Regions from separate parts of the Homo sapiens genome. Here all the other regions are linked to region 1. The links come from fine-mapping of genetic effects on gene expression. A gene starts in region 1. Each other region holds a variant in brackets. All regions are shown on one strand. Distances are from middle to middle. Region 1 holds the start of SLC7A5 (solute carrier family 7 member 5). Region 2 holds the start of LOC102724467 (a long non-coding RNA gene). Region 3 overlaps CA5A (carbonic anhydrase 5A). Region 4 holds the start of SLC7A5-AS1 (SLC7A5 antisense RNA 1).

Region 1 (5,724 bases):
TTTAGGCTTTAAAAAAAAGGTGGAGAACAAGTTGTACATTATGATCTTTTAAATAAATAGGCCAGCGATATATTTGTAACAGAAGCAGCTCCGGAAGCATACACTGTCAGCCGCAGAAACTCTGGGGGTCGGGGGTGGTAAAGGAGGAGAAATGTGTCACCCAGGCAGGAGCTCAGTGGCACCATGCTTGGTTCAAGCAGTTCTCCTGCCTCAGCCTCCGAGTAGCTGGGACTACAGGTGTGCGCCATGACGCCCAGCTGATTTTTGCTTTTTTTTTGAGATGGAGTTTCGCCTTGTTGCCCAGGCTGGAGTGCAGTGGTGCGATCTCAGCTCACTGCAACCTCCACCTCCTGGGTTCTAGTGATTCTCCTGCCTCAGCCTCCCGAGTAGCTGGGATTACAGGCATCTGCCACCACACCCAGCTAATTTTTTGTATTTTTAGTAGAGATGGGGTTTCACCATGTTGGCCAGGCTGGTCTCGAACTCCTGACTTCAGGTGATCCGCCTGCCTCGGCCTCCCAAGTGCTGGGATTACAGGTGTGAGCCACAGTGCCTGGCTGGTTTGAATTTTTAAATGATGATGAATTCATGTATGACTGATGTGATTTTTATTAGAAAGAGAAAACTAGGCAGCGCCCCATCCTACGTCTCCTTCCTGGTGGCCAATGAAGCATTTCCCACGACTCACTCCTGGCACCAGCAGGAAGTCAGAGACTCAGCACCCAGGGGCTGCTTTTTTTTTTTTGAGACAGGCTTGCTCTGTCACCCAGACTGGAGTGCAGTGGCGGGATCTCAACTCACTGCAACCTCCACATCCCGGAGCATGCCTCAGACTCATAAGCAGCTGGGATTACAGGCGTGAGCCACTCTGCCCGGCTAATTTTTGTATTTTTAGTAGAGATGGGGTTTCACCATGTTGGTCAGGCTGGTCTCGAACTCCTGACCTCGGTAGATCCGCCCGTCTCGGCCTCCCAAAGTGCTGGGATTATAGGCGTGGGCCATCACACCCAGCCAACCAGGGGTTCATTTTTTAAAGATAAGAGTGCAGGCTGCGTAAGCTACTATCCATGTCGTTACATACCGGGCCGACATGTACCTAGGCGGGAGGGAGACTGAACCAGTGAAATTCTAATGACAAAAAAAGAAATCAGAGTCATCCCCTACATTCACATCTCCAACGCCCAGCTGGAAGGCACAGGCTCTCCCCACTGCTGTCCTGCTACGATTTTTCCCGGCTTTGACCTGCATGGTGGTGCGGCTGCTCGACTCAGAGCCTCAGAGAAACCACACAGAGCCCTGCTGAGTCTTGCCCTCGGGGCATTCTCACATTTATGAAGAAATGCCTCCCCCTCCCCCTCCCCCCCAAAGTACGGTGTGGCAGAAAACAGCGCCAACAGGTCCTGCCAGTCAGAAGCCACTCCCCTGATTTCATGGCTCAAGACCCCAACTATAAATTAGCCCTTCCCACCTTGAATGTGTACACACACTATTGAGATGCAGGCCGATCCATGCCATGGGATGAATCTGAGAATTGCCAAGACCCACCTTCCCACGCCACCCAACCAAATCATGTGGCATCTGCTACAAGTGATTTTCCCCCTGAAATCCCACAAGAAAACTATTTTGAGGCCGGGCACGGTGGCTCACGCCTGTAATCCCAGCACTTTGGGAGGCCGAGGCGGGCGGATCACAAGGTCAGGAGATCGAGACCATCCTGGCTAACACGGTGAAACGCCGTCTCTACTAAAAATACAAAAAAAATTACCCGGGCGTAGTGGCGGGCACCTGTAGTCCCAGCTACTCGGGAGGCTGAGCCAGGAGAATGGCATGAACCTGGGAGGCGGGCTTGCGGTGAGCCGAGATCGTGCCACTGTACTCCAGCCTGGGCGACTGAGCGGGACTCAGTGTCAAAAAAAAAAAAAAAAAAGAAAGAAAAAGAAAAAGAAAACTATTTTGAAAAGCAGTTATCTCTGGCCTGGTGAAGAACACACCAGCACCATGCCCACCAAAACAGGAGCCCCATGGCTGTTTCCCAGAGAAACCTGGGACCCGCACGTCCATTCACTGCAACACAGACTGAATCTGCAGCCAAGCTCCGCTCTCTCACTACTGGGAACCCTCAGGGGGGATCCCTTAGCCTAAATCAGCACCAGTCACTACCCGCACACGATGTTATTACTACTGTTTTCTTATGAGTCAGCCCGTGTCACTGATTCCTGACGAGCTGGTGTGGAGAGCAGAAATGAATGATTTTTTTTTTAACTGCAATTTCCTTCTCACCAACCAGTCAGCAATCGGAGCTCTAACAGTAAACCGATTGCTCAGTTACTCCACGTGGGTGCCACGCAAGAGGCTGGGAGTATTGCTCAGCGGGGCCAACGGGAGGGTGGCACTTGCCTAAACCGCTTAAGTGGGGGAATGGAATGCCCACCGAAGGGCAGGGCAGGGACCCTGCTGTCCCGTCACTGAAGATATTCCCAGCCTGTGGGGAGAAGTGTAAAAGAATGAATGAAAGAAACGCACGTGGTTTCTGGGACCAATGACCTTAGCCTAGAACTGCCGGGATGGTCCAGGAACGTAAAGATGTAGAGATGTGGGAGCCAGGGGCGTAGTGATGCAAGGATGCAGGGACCCAGAGACTACGACCTCCCAACCCCCGGCCCGCGCCCCGTACTCACGCACGCAGAGGCAGGCCACGAGCTTGGCTGCCTCCTCGGGCACCGGGCAGGTGGGGAAGAGCGGCTTGAGCAGGTAGGTGGCGAAGACCAGGGCCACGATGTACTGCGATGAAGGCCGGATGATGAGCAGCTCGATCCAGAGCTTGAGGAAGGCGGGCAGCGAGCCGTAGACCTCCAGCATGTAGGCGTAGTCGCCGCCCGATTTGGAGATGGTGGTGCCGAGCTCCGCGTAGCAGAGCGCGCCCACGATGGAGAAGACGCCGCACGCGGCCCACACCACCAGCGCCAGCCCCGGCGAGCCTGCCTCCTTGAGCACGCCCGTGGGCGTCACGAAGATGCCCGAGCCGATAATGGTCCCCACGATGATGGCCACGCCGTTGAGCAGCGTGATGTTCCGCTGCAGGGTCACGCCCTCGCCCTCGCCTGCCGGCGCCGAGCCGTCCGCGCTCTTGGCGGCCAGCATCTTCTCCCGCGCCTCTTCCTTCTCCTCGGCCGCCGGCGCCGCTAGCGCGCGCCGCTTCGGGCCCGCACCCGCCATGCTCTGCGCACCGGCCGGGCCTGGGACACCCGGGAGCCGCGGCCCAGCGAGCAGTGTGCGCGCCGCCCGCCGCCCGCAGCTGCGTCAGGAACCCCGCCCGCGCCGCCTTTTAGGCCCCGGCCCGCCGGCCCCGCCCACCGTCCGCGGCTCCTCCCCGCCCCGTGGCCCGGCCCCGTCCCTCAGCCCCGCCCCCTCGGCCCAGCTCGGAGCACGTGCGTCGTCCGGCCCAGCCTGGCGGGCTATTCCCAGGCCCGCGTGGTCCTCGAAGGCCCCAGTCCTCCTGCGCCATGGAGACCCCGGCCTCGCGACCTCCCCCCTCCCGGCGCCCGCGTCATCCCAGCCCGTCCTCCCGGATGCGCCTGGGCGGGGCCTGGCAGTCAGGGCGCGCCCCTTCACCCACTGGCCCGCAGCCTCTCGTCAAGCCTGGGAGCGGGCAGTGCACCAGGGCTGGCCTGAGGCCAAGGATGGAGTTTGGGGTACCCCCCGAAGGGAACCTAGGCTCCTGTCCCGGATGGGCCGAGGGGATGGAACCGCCCCCACAACCAGCTCCTGGGGCACGGGGGAGGGATGAGAGGATGACCTGAGGGGAAGCTCCTGCAGCCTCCTTCCAGCCTGGGGGCTGCATCAGTGGGGCTGGTGAGCCGCGAACTGGGACGAGGGAAGAACCGAACCGAGGCCACCCAGTAATTCCCATTGTATCCCAAAAGAATCTTGCCAAAGACGGCGATCCGGTGCCCGTAGCTTTGAGAAGCAGTAATAACACAGGCTTTGGGAAGCCAGCAATCTGCCTGAGCTCAATTTAATCAACAGAACCGGGGGTTCGCTGGGAGCCATAAGACCCCCACCCCCAAATCTACCTGGGGAATTCAAAGGCAGGCTTCAGTGTGAAGGGGCTTTAAAGCTTGTTATTCCTAGGGAATGCGAGAGGCATCTTAGCTAAAAAGGGTTGAGAGGTAATTTCAGTTAGAGGCGAGAGCAGGATGCCAAGGCTCCTAGGCCTGGAAATGGGAAGGAATATAAATACTGCCCCGAGATTGACCAGACTGGTGAGCGGCCAAAGACCTGTTCAAAGGGTGTGTGTGGGTCAGGGAGGAAGCTCCTCAGTATCACCCCACCCCGGGGTTCCTTGGCGTGTGTGCAAACGAGTCCTTGGAAGCTCACAGCAGGCATGTGGGGAGGCCTTTGTTCTGGGTGAGCGTTCAGCCTCCCAGGGCAAACACGCAAACACCGGTTGCAGAGCTGGGTGTTCACAGCAAGACAGTCTGCTGGGCAGATGCCTCTGGAATCCACAGAATTCTGAACAATAGCCGTGGTGGAGGGGGGTCAGAATCCCTGTCGTGCTGGGACCTCTAGCTGCAGCCAGGAATGTCCAGGCCCCACCCCAGGGAGGGGGCGGCTGAGGAATGCCAGGGCTTGTCATTCTGGACCTTGCTCGCCCCCCGGTATGTCGGGCATTCCTCTGCGGTGATAAAACCGAGCGAAATCTCAGCAGCCCAGGCAGCCACAGGCGGGGGAGTGCGGAGGTCACACAGATACTAACTTGTAATCTGCCGTCCACATTGCTGGCTGTGGAAGGTGCAGAGACCCCTCCATCTGCCCTATTCTTCCCGCTGTGCCTGCAGAGGGAAGGAGACAGTACCACCATGGCTGGGCAAACTCACCGAGTGCTCACTGAGTCCTCCCCTAGACAGCTTCTTATGCAATAGGGTAGGTGCCAGTTAGAGCCATTTTGCAAATAAGGAAGCTGAGGCTTGGTAGGGTTACCTCGCTTGTCCGGCCAGCAAGTAGCCTGGGAGCTGTCCTTTTGACTCTGAACTTATATGGTACTTTTAATCATTCCACCATTCTTCTTTGAGTAACAAGAAAGGCAACCAACAGTCATACCCCAAAGCATAAAATTACAACCATGATAAGCCAAGGACATGACAGGGTGAGCCAGCGACAGCGACAGGGACCAGGCAGGTCCAGATAGACTTTTCTGAGGTGGTACCTGGAGCTGAGAGCCCAGGGTGAGTGAGAATTAATAAGGGAGGTGCAGGGGTCCCCACCGGCACAGAGGGGGCCCTGCACAGTTGGTGCAAGTCATGGTTGGTGCCCCCAGAGCCAGGCTCCTGGCAAGTGCTGGAGCCCTTAAGCAGGAAGGGTGACAACAGCCATGAGCGTGTTCAAGTCACACAGCTATTACGCCACCTCTGTCGGTTTTTACTGGGTTTTCATATGACAACATTCTAGATTTATCCAGCAAATCTACTCCTCTCAGACGTCCCTGATGCCGGCCCTGAAACGCCTTCGCCTGAAAGCTATGACTCTAGAATCTTAGCAAAGAGTGCCATCTGTTGGAAAGATTCGGCAGCGTTTTGATTTTTACAGAGGCAGGACAATGGTCTTTTCAGCTCCAGTCAGTAATTTATCACATGTTGTGTATTTTCAGAGGTTAAAAAAAAGAAAGAAAGAAAAGAAAAAAAAGTTGTGGCACTCTCGCTTGAGCTGGTTGGGAGAATACTTTCT
Region 2 (5,691 bases), 87 kb before region 1:
GGCTCCTACCTGGCCGCCAGCTCCAGAAGCCAAGCCAGGGGCTCTTCGAGACATGGTCCCACCAGAGGAGAGACCGAGCCTCGGAGAAATGAACGTCCTAGGCCATGGGACTCGGACCCCTCACCCCACCCGCCACACCTGCCAACTTCCCGGCCTGCAGGGTGGCAGGAAGCCTGAGGCATTATTCAGCTTCCTTAGGGCCCGTTGGCTGATGCAACACAGCTCAGAAGTTGAGTCCAAGCACCAAGCCCGCAATGTCTGCGTCGGCCGCCAGGGGTCACTCCTCCCGCGCAGAAGGCGGCCTTGGAGCCTCGCAACCGCAGTATGCGAAGGTTGCATCACCCTCGCGGGGTCTAAGAGGAAGGATGGGGACCAGCCCGCAGGCGGGCCTGAGCCTCCTGGCAAAGCCCTTTGTCAACGTCAACAGAAGCATCTGGCGTCCTTTCTGGTCGCGGACGTCAGAGCTGGCTGCTCCGGCACTCAGCCGGGTGGTTGGTCCCCAGGCAGCCGCTGGGGCCCTGCCACCAGGTCTCACCTGGCCGAGAGGGAGTCAGGATGCCCTCTGAAGCAATGTCCCGAAATCCCAAATTCACCCCTACCCCCAGGTCAATAATGTACAAGAAGCTACATTCCTTTTTTTTTTTTTTTTTTTGAGAGGGAGTCTCACTCTTGTTGCCCAGGCTGGAATGCAATGCCACGACCTCGGCTCACCGCAACCTCTGCTTCCCAAGTTCAAGCAATTCTCCTGCCTCAGCCTCCCAAGTAGCTGGGATTACAGGCATGCGCCACCACACCCTGCTAATTTTGTATTTTTAGTACAGACAGGGTTTCTTTTTTCTTTTTTTTTTTTTTTTTGGAGACGCAGTTTCACTCTTGTTGCCCAGGCTGGAGTGCAATGGCATGATCTTGGCTCACCACAACCTCTGCCTCCTGGGTTCGAGTGATTCTCCTGCCTCAGCCTCCCGAGTAGCTGGGACTACAGGCATGCACCACCATATCTGGCTGATTTTTTTGTATTTTTAGTAGAGATGGGGTTTCTCCACGTTGGTCAGGCTAGCCTCAAACTCCCGACCTCAGGTGATCCACCCGCCTCGGCCTCCCAAAGTGTTGGGATTACAGGCGTGAGCCACCGTGCCCGGCCTGAGACAGGGTTTCTCCATGTTGGCCAGGCTGGTCTCAAACTCCAGACCTCAGGTGATCCGCCTGCCTTGGCCTCCCAAAGCATTGGGATTACAGGCATGAACCACCACGCCTGGCCGTTGAAGCTACATTCTTGTTCCAAAGTTTTAAGCAGGGACTTTGGTGCAGACATAGCAATCTTTTGGGAGGATTAATGGAGGGAAGAAATAGTACCTGGTATTCCCACTGCTCTCACCCACAGCCCCGGGATCCACCTCCTCTTTACCGCCCGGGCCACAGAGAGCACACGTGGGCTCCTTTCCATTTGCTGGTCCGACCCAGCAGTGGTCACCGCTGGAGCCCTGAGACCCCACCAAGGTGTTCTGCCCAGCTCTCCTCATCCACAGAGGACAGAGGGGGTCAGGGGAAATAATATGAATCTGACGCTGGGGACATTTGCAACCCGCAGAGTCACCGCCACCTGGTGTCTCTTCAGTGTCTATGGAGACCAGTAAATGACTGTTTGCTCCACTGTTCTGAAAACAAATGAGTGCAGAAACAATCTTCTTTTGCTTCCTGCCTGGTGAGAGACATGATTGCCAAGAGCTCAGGCCAGGAGCCGAGGGTTTGCTTTTCATCCTAATCTTCAAGGTGGTCATCTTCAAAGGATGTGAGAGGGCAAGAGCTGAGCTCTGCTTCCTGCAAAGAGAACCACACATGTCCCTCAGTGGAGCACCCAGTCTAGCTTTCCTGTGTCTGCCTTCCTCCCTCCACCCACGCCTTCCTCCCTCTGCCCACAAGTCCTTCACCCTCTCCCCACAGGCTCAGCCTTCGGGAGCTATTTCCTGTGGCTTTTTATTCACTTCCTTTTTTTTTTTTTTTTTTTTTGAGA[T/C]GGAGTCTCACTCTGTCGCCCAGGCTGGAGTGCAGTGGCACGATCTTGGCTCACTGCAACTTCTGTCTCTCAGATTCAAGCGATTCTCCTGCCTCATCCTCCTGAGTAGCTGGGATTACAGGCCTGAACTACCATGCCTGGCTAATTTTTATATTTTTAGTAGAGACGGGGTTTCACCATGTTGGTCAGGCTAGTCTTGAACTCCTGACCTCAAGTGATCCACCCGCCTCAGCCCCCCAAACTGCTGAGATTACAGGTGTGAGCCACCGCGCCCAGCCTCATTTACTTGTTTTGATAATTTTTTTCTTTTGGGATAATCGTAGCTTTGCAGGACAGCTAAGATAGTTCCTGAAGTTCTCCAGTGATCATCTTCCATACAATGGTACATTGGTCAAAACTAAGCAACCAACATTGGTATATTGCCATTAACTAAACCCCAGACTTGCTTTGGATTTCCCTGGGTCTTTTCCTACTTACATCCTTTTCCTGTTCCCATCCAGGATCCTACGCAGGAGACAACATTGCATTTAGATGTGGTTCACTCTTCAATGCAGAGATTTTAGACCCTAACCCATCTCACCCTGTGTAGCTCCAGGTGTGTGGCCTCCTGCTGCTGGGAGGAAACGCACCGAGTCGTGGTGCTCAGTGGCACCCTAAATGCCCTGGGAGCCTGTGAACCCCAAAAATCTGAGACAGGTCTCAATCAATGAAGAAAGCTTATTTTGCCAGGTCAAAGACAGGCACTGTGACACAGCTGAGTCAGGAGAATAGATCCTGGAAGAAGGGAACCGAGAGACTGCCTAGGACTAAATCAAATGTAAGGGCTTGGTACAGTGGCTCACGCCTGTAATCCCAGAACTCTGGGAGGCCAGGCGGGCAGATCACCTGAGGTCAGGAGTTCAAGACCAGCCTGGACAACATGGTGAAACCCCGTCACTACTAAAAATACAAAAATTAGCTGGGTGTAGTGGTGGGTGCCTGTAATGCCAGCAACTCAGGAGGCTGAGGCAGGAGAATCACTTGAACCTGGGAGGCGGAGGTTGCAGTGAGCTGAGAACGTGCCACTGCACACCAGCCTGGATGACAGGGAGAGACTCCATCTCAAAAATAAATAAATAAATAAAATAGAAACACTTCAGCTATGACAGGAAATATCCTCTTTACTTACATAGGGCATCTGTGTAAATGAAGCGTAAATGATTTCATTGACAAATGAGTAAGTGACTTTGTAACTTTACTTCATCCTCTTCATTTACACAGGGCGTACACCAAGTAAATGACTTTGTAACTTCACTTTAGCCTCTTCATTCACAAAGGGCATACACCAAGCAACCAATGGAAACCTCTAGAGGGTATTTAAATCCCAGAAAATTCTGTAACCAGTTTCTTGAGCCCCTATGCTGGGGCCCACTCCTACCTTGTGGAATGTACTTTCTCGTTTTCTTTTTTTTTTTTTTTTTTGAGGTGGAGTCTCGCTCTGTCGCCCAGGCTGGAGTGCAATGGCGTGATCTCAGCTCACTGCAAGCTCCGCCTCCCAGGTTCACGCCATTCTCCTGCCTCAGCCTCCCGAGTAGCTGGGACTATAGGTGCCCGCCACAACGCCTGGCTAATTTTTTGTATTTTTTAGTAGAGACGAGGTTTTACCGTGTTGGCCAGGATGGTCTTGATCTCCTGACCTTGTGATCCGCCCACCTCGGCCTCCCAAAATCCTGGGATCACAGGTGTGAGCCACCGCGCCCGGCCTTGTACTTTCGTTTTCAATAACTCTCTGCTTTTGCTGCCTCACTCTTTTTGCTTTGTTTGTGCATTTTGTGCAATTATTTGTTGGACAACACCAAGATGCCAAGAACCTGGACACCGTCCACCGGTAACACAGCCTCAGGGGGTCCTGAGGACATGTACCCAAGGTGGCTGGGGCACGGTTTGGTTTTACACGTTTTAGGGAGACATGGAGACATCAATCAATATATGTAAGATGTACATTGGTTCCGTACAAAGAGGCAGGACAACTCAAGCAGGGAGGGGGGCTTCCAGGTGGCAGGTCGGGGAGAGACAAACCGTTGCATTCTTTTGAAATTTCTGATTAGCCTTTCCAAAGGACGCCATCAGATATGTATGTATCTCAGTGAGCAGAGGTGTGACTGAATAGAATGGGAGGCAGTTTTGCCTTAAGCAGCTCCCAGATTGACTTTTCCCTTTAGCTTAGTGATTTGAGGGCCACAAGATTTCCAAGATTTATTTTCCTTTCACAAGCTGAAGAAGTGGGAGCTGCCTTTGGTGCTCTCCCCATGGACCTGACTCTGGCCTTCCCCTCCCTTTACCCCCATGGGTCCCTTGTCTCTGCAGTTGATTTGCTCACGAGATTCTAAATATCAGCCGTTTACTACTTAGGATAAACCGCAGGTCTTGCTGCAGTATCGCCCGTTGCTGATATGTGCAGATGCCAAGTTCTCTGGATGGGAACCATCTAGAGCCTTGGTAGTCAAAGGCCGGGCGCAGTGGCTCACCCCTGTAATCCCAGCACTTTGGGAAGTCAAGGCAGGCGGATTACTTGAGGTCAGGAGTTTGAGACCAGCCTGGACAACATGGTGAAACCCTGTCTCTCCCAGAAATACAAAAATTTGCTGGGCATGGTGGTGCGTGCCTGTAATCCCAGCTACTCGGGAGGCTGAGGCCGGAGAATCACTTGAACCCAGGAAGGGAGGTTGCAGTGAGCCGAGATTACGCTACTGCACTCCAGCCTGGGCAACAGAGCGAGACTCCGTCACAGAAAAAAAAAGAGTCTTGGTAGTCATGGGGATTGAAGCCTCTTTGGGAGTCCCATCCCTTCGCTCCTTCTGTGCCTGTGACCCCTCACTGTGAAGTGCACACTCCCAGAGTGCCCAGGCCAGGCTGGTTCAGTGCCACCCACCCTCCAGCCTCTCCCAACCCCCCACAGCCAAAGCACCGGCACAGAGGTCACAGGAGACTCAGGCCACGTGGCATCCAGATGCCGACAAAGTGAGTTCTTTACCCAGAAAATGAAAGGGAGACCTTCCCGAGGCGCTTGCCCATCCAACTGTGCAAGGATGACGGGGTTCCACTCAAGCCAACCGAAAACATCCACAGATAAGAATACACAAAATAAAGCCAACCCACAACAAACTCCCAGGACTCAGAATCCAACACGCCTCCCATCGTCGTGTTGTGACCAAGCGAGTTACAGAGAAACGCCACACTTTGAGACAAATTAAAGAGTCTTTTATTAGCCAGCGACCAAGAGGCAGCTAATGCTCAAAATTCTCTCAGCCCTGAGGAAGGGACTAGTTTTGTTTTTATACCGTGGTCTAAACAGCGGAGGCAGGATTTTAGCTGAAGCAATTTTTACAGAAGCAGAACTGGCAAAAAGTTAAAAATTTAATTGGTTACATGGCCGGGCGCGGTGGCTTAAGCCTGTAATCCCAGCACTTTGGGAGGCCGAGGCGGGTGGATCATGAGGTCAGGAGATTGAGACCATCCTGGCTAACGTGATGAAACCCCGTCTCTACTAAAAATACAAAAAATTAGCCGGGCGTGGTGGCGGGCGCCTGTAGTCCCAGCTACTCGGGAGGCTGAGGCAGGAGAATGGCTTGAACCCGGGAGGCAGAGCTTGCAGTGAGCCAAGATCGCGCCACTGCACTCCAGCCTGGGCGACAGAGCGA
Region 3 (5,724 bases), 24 kb after region 1:
CTTCCAGGACATGTGCCTCCCTGGCTCCCCTGCTCAGGATAAGGGGCTCCTGCCCTGCATTTTTATATGACACCGGCCACCCTGGCTTAATACTATTGGCTTCGTTTCTACTTTCCTGCCATACAGCAGTGTTCTGAGACGAATGCCCTGTTCCTGTACCGCCCCTCCACACCTGCCCCCCTCCCACCCTCTCTTGGTGGCACAGACCCAGAATGGGCACTTGTCACATATATGCTTGTTGAGTGGCATAAGGGCCTTGCTGACAAGGGGCCACCTTCAACAAAAGCCTTCCCCGTTTGTATATAAGGGAATATTTTCACAGGCCCGGGAGACTGAAAGACCCTCTAAGAGCTCACCTGGAGCCCTCGGAAAGAGATGAGCCAGAGATGCTAAGTCGCGCTGCGACTGCTGAGAAACGTCTGCCGGGCGGGGGCGGGGCATAGGCAGCACGTCTGTGGCTCTGAACTGCCTTGGACAGACAGAATTGCTACAGATTCTTAAGATTTCCAGAAAAAAATGATAGTATAACTTTTATTTATTTTTTATTTTATTTTTTTGAGGCAGAGTGTCACTCTGTCACCCAGGTTGGAGTGCAGTGGTGCCATCTCAGCTCACTGCAACCTCCGCCTTCCAGGTTCAAGTGATTCTCCTACCTCAGCCTCCCAAGTAGCTGGGATTACAGGCAAACGCCACCATGCCTGGCTAATTTTTGTATTTTTATTTATTTATTTATTTGAGATGGAGTTTTGCTCTTGTTGTCCAGGCTGGAGTGCAGTGGCGTGATCTCAGCTCACTGCAGCCTCTGCCTCCCGGCTTCAAGTTATTCTCTTGCCCCAGCCTCCCAAGTAGCTGATATTACAGGCATGCACCACCACGCCTGGCTAATTTTGTAGATTTAGTAGAGACGGGGTTTCACCATGTTGGTCAGGCTGGTCTCGAACTCCTGGCCTCAAGTGATCTGGCTGCCTTGGCCTCTTTAAGTCCTAAAATTATGGGCATGAGCCATGACGCCCAGCCCAAGAGTATAACTTTAAAAAGTGTATACAAATATTATTAATTAATTTTCGAAAAAAAAAAAAGCAATGAAACTATTTAGATAAGAAAAAGGAGGCCGGGCTCGGTGGCTTATGCCTGGAATCCCAGCGCTTTGGGAGGCCAAGGTGGGCAGATCACCTGAGGTCAAGAGTTCAAGACCAGCCTGGCCAACATGGTGAAACTCCGTCTCTACTAAAAATACAAAAATTAGCCAGGCGTGGTGATGGGTGCCTGTAATCCCAGCTATTTGGGAGGCTGAGGCAGGAGAATCGCTTGAACCCAGGAGGTGGAGGTTGTAGTGAGCCGAGATCGCACCACTGCACTCCAGCCTGGGCGATAGAACGAGACTCTGTCTCAAAAAAAAAAAAGGAAAGAAAAGAAAAAGGAAGAAAACAAAAACCATGCAGACCCATGACCCTGGGACAACTCCCATGGATGCCTCGTGTGTCTGTGTGTGATAGATTAGGGCGTTGCTCAGGACATGCTTGCTGTGATCACTGGAACCGCTGTCCAATCTCAACAAGCTCCTACTTCAGTTGGAATTTTCTTCTTGTGTAAGAATGCCCCAAATGCATGAAAGAATATATATAACTCCACAACGCTCTCATGCAGCATCTTAGTGACGCTGCCAAGCAAGAGGGACGCCTTCCATGAAGCGCCATCGTGCCAGTTACGGGCACGGCTCACCTGGCTTGGGGCCACTTCAACGGGCTCCTTCTGGATGATCCAGGTGACCGACTCGGTCAGCGGCGGGGTGGTGAGCGAGCCCGCGTAGGTCCAGTAATCCCAGCAGGTGGGCAGCAGAGTGGAGGGGTCGAAGGGGCGCATGGCCGCCCGCGCGTCCTGAGAGACCGAGAAGCACAGGACGTGTCAGTCCTCAGGGGAGACTAGGAGCTTCCATCTTGTCTCAGCACGTGAGGCCTTCATGGTGCTTGGAAGGAAGTGCTTTCCCCCAGATAAGGCCATGAGGCCACTGCTGTCACACTTGCAAGCAGTGATGAGAAAATGTGACCCTTCTATACAGAGCAAGGATTCCTGCCAACTTACATTGGTGGGAATTACGTTACATTACACCAGCTTACGTTGGTGCTCACATTTTTCCTTTTGAAGTCATTTCTTGGGGCGCAGTAGCTCACCCCTGTAATCTCAGCACTTTGGGAGGCCGAGGCGGGTGCATCACTTGAGGTCAGGAGTTCGAGACCAGCCTGGTCAACGTGGTGAAACCCTGTCTCTACTAAAAATACAAAAATTATCCAGATGTGGTGGTGGGCGCCTGTAGTCCCAGCTACTCAGGAGGCTGAGGCAGGAGAATCGCTTGAGCCCAGGAGGCAGAGGTTGCAGTGAGCCGAGATCATGCCACTGCACTCCAGCCTGGGCAACAGAGTGAGACTCTGTCTCAAATAATAATAATAATAATAATAATAATAATAATAATAATAATAATAAATTAATTAATAATAAAAATAAAAATAAAGCCATTTCTTTTAGCATACCTTGGCTGCAAAAAATATTACTTTTTATTGTGATAAAATATACATAACATAAAATTTACCATCTTAACCTTTTTTTTTTTTTTTTCGAGATGGAGTTTTGCTCTTGTTGCCCAGGCTGGAGTGCAATGGTGTGATCTTGGCTCACCGCAACCTCTGCCTCCCAGGTTCAAGCGATTCTCCTGCCTCAGCCTCCAGCGCCTGCCACCACGCCCAGCTAATTTTTGTATTTTTAGTAGAGACAGGGTCTCACCATGTTAGCCAGGCTGGTCTTGAACTCCTGACCTCGGATGATCCACCCGCCTTGGCCTCCCAAAGTGCTGGGGTGAGCCACTGTGCCCGGCCTATGGGCTCCTTTTTAAGGAGGGAGTCATGGTGGCCAAGAAGGATGTCCACATGCCTAAGCACCCGGAGATGGCAGACAAGAATGTGCCCAACCTTCATGTCACGAAGGCCATGCAGTCTCTCAAGCCCCGAGGCTGCCTGAA[G/C]GAACAGTTTGCCTAGAGACATTTCTTTCTTTCTTCCTTTCTTTCTTTCTTTCTTTCTTTTTTTTTTCAGACAGAGTCTCCAGGCTGGAGTGCAGTGGTGCGATCTCAGCTCACTGCAGCCTCTGCTTCCTGGGTTCCAGCGATCCTCCTGCCTCAGCCTCCCTAGTAGCTGGGACTACATCTTCACGCCATCGCGACCAGCTAATTTTTTATATTTTTAGTAGAGACGGGGTTTCACCATATTAGTCAGGATGGTCTCGATCTCCTGACCTCGTGATCTGCCCACCTCGGCCTCCCAAAGTGTTGGGATTACAGGCGTGAGCCACCACGCCCGGCTTGCCTGGAGACATTTCTACTGCTACCTTACCAATGAGGGCATCCAGTATCTCCGTGATTACCTTCATCTGTCCCTGGAAACTGTGCCTGCCACCCTATGCTGCAGCCGTCCAGGGACTGGCAGGCCTCGGCCTAAAGGTCTGGAGGGTGGGCGACCTGCAAGACTCACAAGAGGGGAAGCTGACAGACATACCTACAGACGGAGTGCTGTGCCCCTGGTGCCGACAAGATAGCCGAGGCTCGGGCTGGGTCAGCAACCGAATTCCAGTTTAAAGGCAGATTTGGTCGTGGACATGGCCAGCTACCTCAGTAAAATCAGAGAGGATTATTTTGCATTGAATACACTCACAGCCAAAAAACAAAAAGAGTCAGGGTCTTACTTTGTCACCCAGGCAGGAGTGCAATGATGCCATCATAGCTCACTGCAGGCTCTAATTCCTGGGCTCAAGCGATCCCCCCGCCTCAGTTTCCCAAGTAGCTAGGACACCACACCAGGGTTTAAAATTAATTGTTTGTAGCCAGGGGGTCTTGCCATCTTGCCCAAGCTGTTCTCCAACTCCTGGGCTCAAGCGATCCTCCTGCCTTGGCTTCTCAAAATATTGGGATTACAGGCATAAGCCACTGTGCCCAGCCAGCTCTTTTGGATATATACCCAGAAGTGTGTGATTGCTGAATCATAGGGTAGTTCTATTTATAACTTTTTATTTTTTTTATTTTTTTTGAGGCAGAGTCTCACTCTGTCTTCCAGGCTGGAGTGCCGTGGCATGATCTCAGCTCACGGTGGTTGGGCCTGGCCGCAACACAGCCCTCATCAGCGTCCCATGCCAACCAAGCATAGCTCTGCACCTGCCCCTGGCCAGCACTGTGGGACAAGAGTCCAGTCCAAAGTGACAGAGTCCCTGTCTGCAAGGAAGATGGCCTCCCTGCTCAGCCACATCACATCACCTTGACTTTGCTGGGCCCTGGCCTTCCAAGGTGGAAGCTGGCAACCCAGATGCCTTGGGCTTGTCTCCTAACATCAAGCAGTGAGGGTCAGGGTCAAGAGAGGTGGCTGAGCTACCAGAAGGAAGCCCGGGAGTGTCCACACTGGCAGACACATGCATCAGTTCTATGCACGCATGTTCACGTTTATAATTATCCAGTTAATTAAAAAAAAAAAAACAGCATTATAGGCTGGGCACAGTGGCTCATGCCTGTAATCGCAGCATTTTGGGAGGCCAAGGCAGGCAGATCACCTGAAGTCAGGAGTTCAAGACCAGCCTGACCAACATGGCGAAACCCCATCTCTACTAAAAATACAAAAATTAGCCAGGCATGGTGGCAGGTGCCTGTCATCGCAGCTGCTCGGGAGACTGAGACACAGGAACTGCTTTGGCACAGGATGCAGAGGTTGCAGTGAGCCGAGATGGCACCATTGCACTCCAGCCTGGGCAACAGAGAGAGAGACTCTGTCTCAAACAACAGCAGCAGCAGCAAAACCCACAGCATTATTGTGATAGAATTCACATACCATGCAACTCTCCCATCTAAAGTGTACAGCCTGGTTGGGCGCAATGGATCATGTCTGTAATCCCAGCACTTTGGGAGGCCGATGTGGGAGGACTGCTTGAGGCCAGGAGTTTGAGACCAGCCTAAGCAACATAACGAGACCCTGACTCTACAAAAAATACAAAAACTAGCCAGGTGCAGTGGTGCACGCCTGTGGTCCCAGGTAGTTGGGAGGCTGAGGTGGGAGGATGGCTTGAGCCCCGGAGGTTGAGGCTGCAGTGAGCTGTGATCATACCACTGCACTCTAGCCTCGGTGACGGAGTGAGATCCTTTCTTAAAATAAGTAAATAGGCTGGGCACGGTGGCTCACGCCTGTAATCCCAGCACTTTGGGAGGCCGAGGCGGATGGATCACCTGAGGTCAGGAGTTCGAGACCAGCCTGACCAACATGGCGAAACCATGTCTCTACTAAAAATACAAAATTAGCCAGGCGTGGTGGCGCATGCCTGTAATCCCAGCTACTCGGGAGGCTGAGGCAGGAGAATCACTTAAACCCGGGAGGCAGAGGTTGCAGTGAGCTGAGCTCATGCCATTGCACTCCAGCCTGGGCAACAAGAGTGAAACTCCATCTCAAAAAGAAAACAAAAAACAAAAAACAAAAAAAGTAAATAAAAATTGAAGGGTACAGTTCTATGGTTTTGGGTATATTCACAGTTGTGCAGCCATCCCAAGTCAATTTTAGAACTTCCACCTCAAGGGGGAAGCTTGGTACTTTTTAGCTATGGTCCCCACCCCCGCCCTGCTGCTTCTGTCTCTGTGGGTTTCATAGGAACTGAGTCATGTAACATGTGGAACATTTGTGTCTTGTGTCTCTCACTCAGCACGGC
Region 4 (5,724 bases), 32 kb before region 1:
CCACTTGGGCTTGTTTTTCCACCAGACCCCGAAGAAGTAGACGGGCAGCCCGCTGAGGATGATGGTGAAGCCGATGCCACACTCCACGGGTGTCTTCCAGAAGGAGACGGCGATCAGGAAGAGGCAGGCCAGGATGAAGAACACAGGCAGGGCCAGGTTCACCTGGGGCAGAGGACAGGGCCTGGGTGAGCCCTCTCCTGTCCAGCCTCCCTCCCCCATGCCCCGAGGTTCCTCAGCCCTCCTGGGCCCTCCACACCCACGGCTGCTGACTTCCAGGTCACCAAGATGCGATCTGCACTCCATCTGCCTCACACACCGGGCTGTCCCGCCCTCGACTCTGCATACAGTGCTGGGCATGTTGCCAGGGGCTCAGGCGGCTTATGATGAGGGATGGAAGGAGACAGCTTCGTCTCCCGAGGCCTCCCACGGGCAGGGAAGGTCACGGCTCCATTCCCACATCACAGGCCTGGAAACCCTGAGCCGCCAGGACGCACAGGGGCCTGATGCTTCCAGGAGACAGTGGCCACCCACTAATAAGCCAGGAGACCACCCTCTTGGAGACGCCGCTGTGGACAGCGCTGAGCAAAAGCCCATCCCTGAAGCTGCAGCCTAAACTGTCACCTTCAGCAGATGAGCTCCACCCGGCACAGAAGCCAGGCAGGGCTGCAAGGAGCCTGCAGGCCGCAACCTGCGGCTCGGCATGGCTGGGGGATTGACTCAGCTGTCCTGAATCCATACTTGGACAGGGCACCCTGGGAGATGCAGGGCTGACCACAGGTCCCAGCCCATCAGTGTGGGCTGCATGACTGCCCTGTCCCCAGGGAACAGACGCCAACCCGTGCCCAGGCTCACAACAGTGGGTAGAGCCTACCCCATGCCCAGGTCCCCATGGGGGCTGAGCCCCCGCTGTGCGCAGTGACTGCCCTGTGCCCTAGGCACTGCCCCAGGCTGGCACAGCAGGCACAAGCTGGTGCCCATGTAGGGCGGCTCCTCCCTGCCCTCTGCAGCCTTCTCTTGGGGCAGCATCTGGGTTCTTGTGCTGACTGTATTTTAAAGCCCCTGTTTTTTTTGTTTGTTTGAGACGGAGTCTCACTCTGTCGTCCAGGCTGGAGTACAGTGGCGCGACCTCGGCCTCCCAGGTTCATGCCATTCTCCTGCCTCCACCTCCCGAGTAGCTGCAACTATAGGCGCCCGCCACCACGCCCAGCTAATTTTTTTGTATTTTTAGTAGAGACGGGGTTTCACCGTGTTAGCCAGGATGGTCTCTATCTCCTGACTTTGTGATCTGCCCGCCTCGGCCTCCCAAAGTGCTGGGATTACAGGCGTGAGCCACCGCGCCCAGCCTAAAGCCCGTTCAACAGCATTCACAGGCACCCCCGGGGCCCCCAGGCTTCGGGAACACAGAGGGAGAGATGGTCCGGGCAGGGAAGCAGGGGCTACTGTGACAGCCATAGGCCAGCTGAGTGACAAAAGCTGCTGGCTAGCAGCCACCAGGGGCTCTGGCCTCTTGTTCTGTGTCAGGGCCAGGGCGGCGGGACTTGCTGGGCCCCAGGCAAGAGCATGGCCTCTGCTGGACGGCCCCGTTTTTGGAGAAGGCAGCCCACGGATAACAGCTACCCCTCTGAATGAGCCGCTGGGGACGGGGAGAGTCCAGGAGAGTCCAGCTGGGCCCAGGCGCTCCTCGGGCCGGGTTCCCTGCATTCCTCCTGCCAGCACAGCCCCGACGGCCCTTTGAATGCTGCGCCAGGCCCGGCTCTGCCCCGCCCCTGCCGGGGCTCACCACCGCCCACCTATGACTGCAGTGTCCTTATCTGCTTCCCTCCACCCAACGGAGCACAAGCTCTGTGCCATCTGCTGTCCTTTGAGGAACCCCGGCTCCTGCAGTCACACTTGGCACCCTCGTAGCTGGTGGTCAAGTCATCACCGGAATTAGTCGACCCAGGTGCATGCAGGCAGGGGCAGGTCCAGAGGCTGAGCTGGGATGCTGGCTCCCAACTCAGGGTCCTTAGGACCCACGGACCCTGCCTCTGTGAAGGGTGCCTGGGTGAGCGGGAGGCCCCGGGCTCACCTTGATGGGCCGCTCAAGCTCAGGCTTTCTGTGGCGCAGCCAGATCATGCCGATGATGGCCAGGGCCACGCAGAGCCAGTTGAAGAAGCTGAAGAAGTTGATGACGGAGAAGATGTCCTTGGAGAAGGCGTAGAGCAGCGTCATCACACACTGGAAGAGAGAGGCGGCTGGCTGAGCCCTGGGGCCCACGAGCAGGGCTGTGGACGGCCGTGGTGGCCACCGGGGACTGTCCAGCCTGGCTGGGCCCAGCTGAGCACCAGGGAATTTTGTTTTAAAGGAGAAACCTCATCTGAGCAACATGCAAGGTCTTGAAGGAGGAAAGGAGGGAAGGAGGGAGGAGAGGAGGAGGGAAGAGGCGGGGAGGAGGGAAGGAGGGAGGAGAGGAGGGAAGGAGGGAGGAGAGGAGGAAATGGAGACCACATTTGGGTTAAGGACAGGTGAAGAACACAGTGTACATACACAGCTGGGCTCTGCTGGACTGTGGCTCTGTGTGCGAGGGCCACAACCTGACCTAACCCAGTGGTCACCAAGAAAACAGTTTCTGTAACCCCCGGCACAGCCGTGCTCCCGAGGACCGTGCAGCTGCCAAAGAGTCCAGGACTTGCTGCCCTTCCTGACTGGCTTCTAACTCAGGGAAGGAGTAGTAAGCAAGGGCCAGGACCTCTGAGGCCAGCCCACAGCTGCCAGACCCCAGCTTCCTCTGCTGTATCTCACTGGCTTTGGGGGAAGCAGCCTGTTGGGGGAGCCCAGTGTGCTCAGGGGTGGGGCCTGCAGCCCACAGCCCTGGAGGAAGCCACTGTGGAGTGGCCTCTCCAGCCCTGGTCACACCCTACGATGAGAACACAGCTTCAGGCACCAGCTCCCTGAATTCCTGACTTACGGAAACTGTGAGATAATAAGTGCTTTTCCTTTTAGAACACTACATTTTGGAGTGATGTGTGACACAGCCAGAGGGAACAAAGGCAGTCACGCGGGCTGGCACGGAAAGATGCAGGAGAAGCGGAAGGAAACTGTGTGTGATGCACCCCGCTGAGAAACGAACAGAGTGGGCGCCCACGGAGGTGCAGTGAGCCAGGCGGCTGGCAGAGCAGCACCCC[G/A]GGTCAGCTTCTGCCTCCCGCATTTCCGATGGTCTGAATCGTTTGTGGCAGCCACCATATATTATTTTTGGAATAAAATCTAAAGCCCCTCCAGCGCTCTCTGGCATTCAGCGGAGCTCGGCAGGAGGCCACATTTGAGCTGTCACCCAGTCCACACCCCAGACAGAGCTGCAAGCTGTGGCAGCCTCCCTCTGGGAGCCCCCGGACAACCCCCAGGGATGTAGGGCACAGGGCCGTGCAGCAGGCTTACCGTGAACACGAGGGACGGCACGGGGGTGAGGAGCTGTGGGTGGATCATGGAGAGGATGGAGGGCAGGTGGCCTTCCCGGGACCCCACGAAGAAGAGCCTGTGGACAGACAAGAGTGGCAGAGTCAGCCACCGCCCCACAACTCAGCACGTGGACAGGGGACACGCAGGCTGGGGAGTGGCAGGGCCTGTGCCTGGCTTGTCTGGGCCTCTCTGGCCACAGTGGGAACCAGGCCCCTCCAGCCGCTGGCTGTGGGCCTCTCAGTTCCCCCAACCAACTCGGCAAGGACAGCAACTTGGGAGCCACTGCTCACTCCAGCCCGGGGGGTCAAGCGGCGGCCACAGGGCATCTAGGACACCACAGCTGTGTCACCTCCAGGCAGGAGTGGGGAGGCGAGGGCCAAAGTTCATGCTTCCTTTATTTCTGTATTATTTGGGCTTGCTGCTGCCTTTTTTTTTTTTTTTTTTTTGAGATGGTCTCACTTTGTCACCCAGGCTGGAGTGCAGTGGCACCATCTCGGCTCACTGCAGTCTCAATCTTCTGGTCTCAAGCAATCCTTCGACCTCAGCCCCCCAAGTAGCTGGGACTACGGGCACGTGCCACCACGCCTGGCTAATTTTTGTATATTTTTGTAGAAACGGGGTTTTGCCATATTGCTCAGGCTGGTCTCGAACTCCTGAGCTCAAGCGATCTGCTCACCTCGGCCTCCTAAAGTGCTGGGATTACAGGTATGAGCCACCATGCCTGGCCTATTTGAGCAATTATGCATCCCCAGTATCACAGAGACAAACCTTTTACAGACATGGAACATGTTGAACCTGGCCATGAGGCCTGGGCCTCCCTCACCTGTGGTGGGTCGGGCTGTGCTCACCTGGAGGATGTGAACAGGGACCCATTGACGGAGCCGAAGCAGGACAGGCCCACGAAGACGGGGATGATCCAGGACATGACGCCCAGGTGATAGTTCCCGAAGTCCTAGGCAGGCACAACCAGTGAGCTGGGCCCCACCGGGCCGGCCCTCGCCCTCCCTGTGCTCACTGGGAGCCCTCTGCACCGGGCCAGCCCTCGCCCTCTGTGCTCACAAGAGCCCTCTGCAGAGGACCTCTCAGGCTGGATTCTGGCCTCTGGGGGGACTTCCCAGGACAGGGCTTTCCAGTGACCCCTGCCCAGCCTGCTTGTTGGGGAGCCCTTGCTGGTCCTGATTTGCCCCCTCCTCTGGGACTCCCTGGAGCAAGCTACGGCCTGCAGGTGGGGATCTTGCCTTCCCCCGTGGGGTCCTCCACAGGCTCAGCACGGTGCCCTGCCGGCAGCGGGCTGGGAGTCAGAGCTTGTTCAGTAGGAAGCTGGCCAGAGCACCCACTCCCTGTTCCCCCAGCCCTGGGAGGGCAGTGGGAGAAGCCTCGGGAACTGCGAGGCCAGCCTGGCTGAGCTGCCCGGTGACACCGCCCGGGCCTGGCCTCCCGCCTGCCAAGCCAGCAGCAGCCGTGCCTTCTAACGAACCCCACTCTGTGGCAGACTCCAATCTTTCTGTACTCAGATTTAAAATGACCTCTGCCCTGGACTCCCCAGGCATTCTGGCTTATAGCTGGTTCTGGGTGTGGCTTGGTATCAGATTTTAAACCCTTCTCCCCTTTGACTCCCCCAGCAGCTGAGCTTGAGGATGATCCCCAGACACTTCCTCTGCGGTCGCTGTGAGGGGAGACCACCACTCCACCCCTCCGGGTAGGGGAGGCTTAGAGACGCGGGGCCCCCTCTGCGTAGGGGAGGCTTAGAGATGTGGGGCACCACTCCGGTCTGGAAGGGACGGGCTGGCCACAGCCTCTCAGGCCCCTGGTGGAAGCTGGCGGGTAGCGGCTCACCACGGCCACGGCCTCGGACGACAGCATCTGCTCGGTGGACAGGGTGGTGAAGTAGGCCAGGTTGGTCAGCACGTACACCAGCGTCACGATGGGCAGGGAGATGATGATGGCCAGGGGCAGGTTTCTGGAAAGAACAGGGACGACATGTCACCCAACGCAGCCCGGGCTGAAGGCCAAACCCTGTGCCCAGGAGCCAGGTGGGCTCCTCGCAAGCAGTAGCTCCAGCCTCTGTGCTGGGCTTCTCGGGGAAGGTGGGAAGCAGCAAGAGAACACAGGCTGGCGGCAGGAGGCTGTGCCTGGAGCGGGACACTGCACAGCCCTGGCTGGTGCCTTGGCCGCGGCCTCAGCTTCCCCACCTGAGAAATGGGGATTCTTCGGGGTGACCTCAAGGGCTCAGGAGAGTTAAGTCAGGCCACCTGGTCTGAATTCTAAGGCTCTGCCCACGAGCTGCA

What was found.
Region 2: its variant is fine-mapped to the expression of SLC7A5 in whole blood (TOPMed, PIP above 0.99).
Region 3: its variant is fine-mapped to the expression of SLC7A5 in whole blood (TOPMed, PIP above 0.99).
Region 4: its variant is fine-mapped to the expression of SLC7A5 in whole blood (TOPMed, PIP above 0.99).

Annotation. Positions count from the first base shown.
Region 1 is chr16:87,866,207-87,871,930 of GRCh38, forward strand. SLC7A5 (solute carrier family 7 member 5) reads right to left here and starts at 3,301. Exons shown (of 10, transcript NM_003486.7): 1 at 2,679-3,301. The coding sequence starts at 3,216. RefSeq lists enhancers at 200-249, 3,855-4,614, 4,059-5,258, 4,615-5,376, a silencer at 3,265-3,614 and a cis regulatory region at 5,338-5,664.
Region 2 is chr16:87,778,978-87,784,668 of GRCh38, forward strand. LOC102724467 (a long non-coding RNA gene) reads right to left here and starts at 171. Exons shown (of 4, transcript NR_120309.1): 1 at 1-171. RefSeq lists enhancers at 1-755, 106-205, 536-625, 756-1,621, 1,647-1,706 and 1 more. The variant T/C (reference allele first, on the strand shown) is at 2,012.
Region 3 is chr16:87,890,077-87,895,800 of GRCh38, forward strand. It overlaps CA5A (carbonic anhydrase 5A), which reads right to left. Exons shown (of 7, transcript NM_001739.2): 6 at 1,723-1,878. Among named protein-coding and RNA genes, the nearest start is that of SLC7A5, 23 kb to the left of the region's middle. The variant G/C (reference allele first, on the strand shown) is at 3,014.
Region 4 is chr16:87,834,430-87,840,153 of GRCh38, forward strand. SLC7A5 (solute carrier family 7 member 5) reads right to left here. Exons shown (of 10, transcript NM_003486.7): 5 at 5,273-5,396; 6 at 4,285-4,388; 7 at 3,416-3,512; 8 at 2,069-2,218; 9 at 1-162. It overlaps SLC7A5-AS1 (SLC7A5 antisense RNA 1), which reads left to right and starts at 1,836. Exons shown (of 2, transcript XR_007065175.1): 1 at 1,836-2,373; 2 at 2,984-3,258. MIR6775 (microRNA 6775) reads right to left here and starts at 231; the gene lies at 163-231. RefSeq lists enhancers at 1-156, 2,248-3,447 and a silencer at 174-468. The variant G/A (reference allele first, on the strand shown) is at 3,166.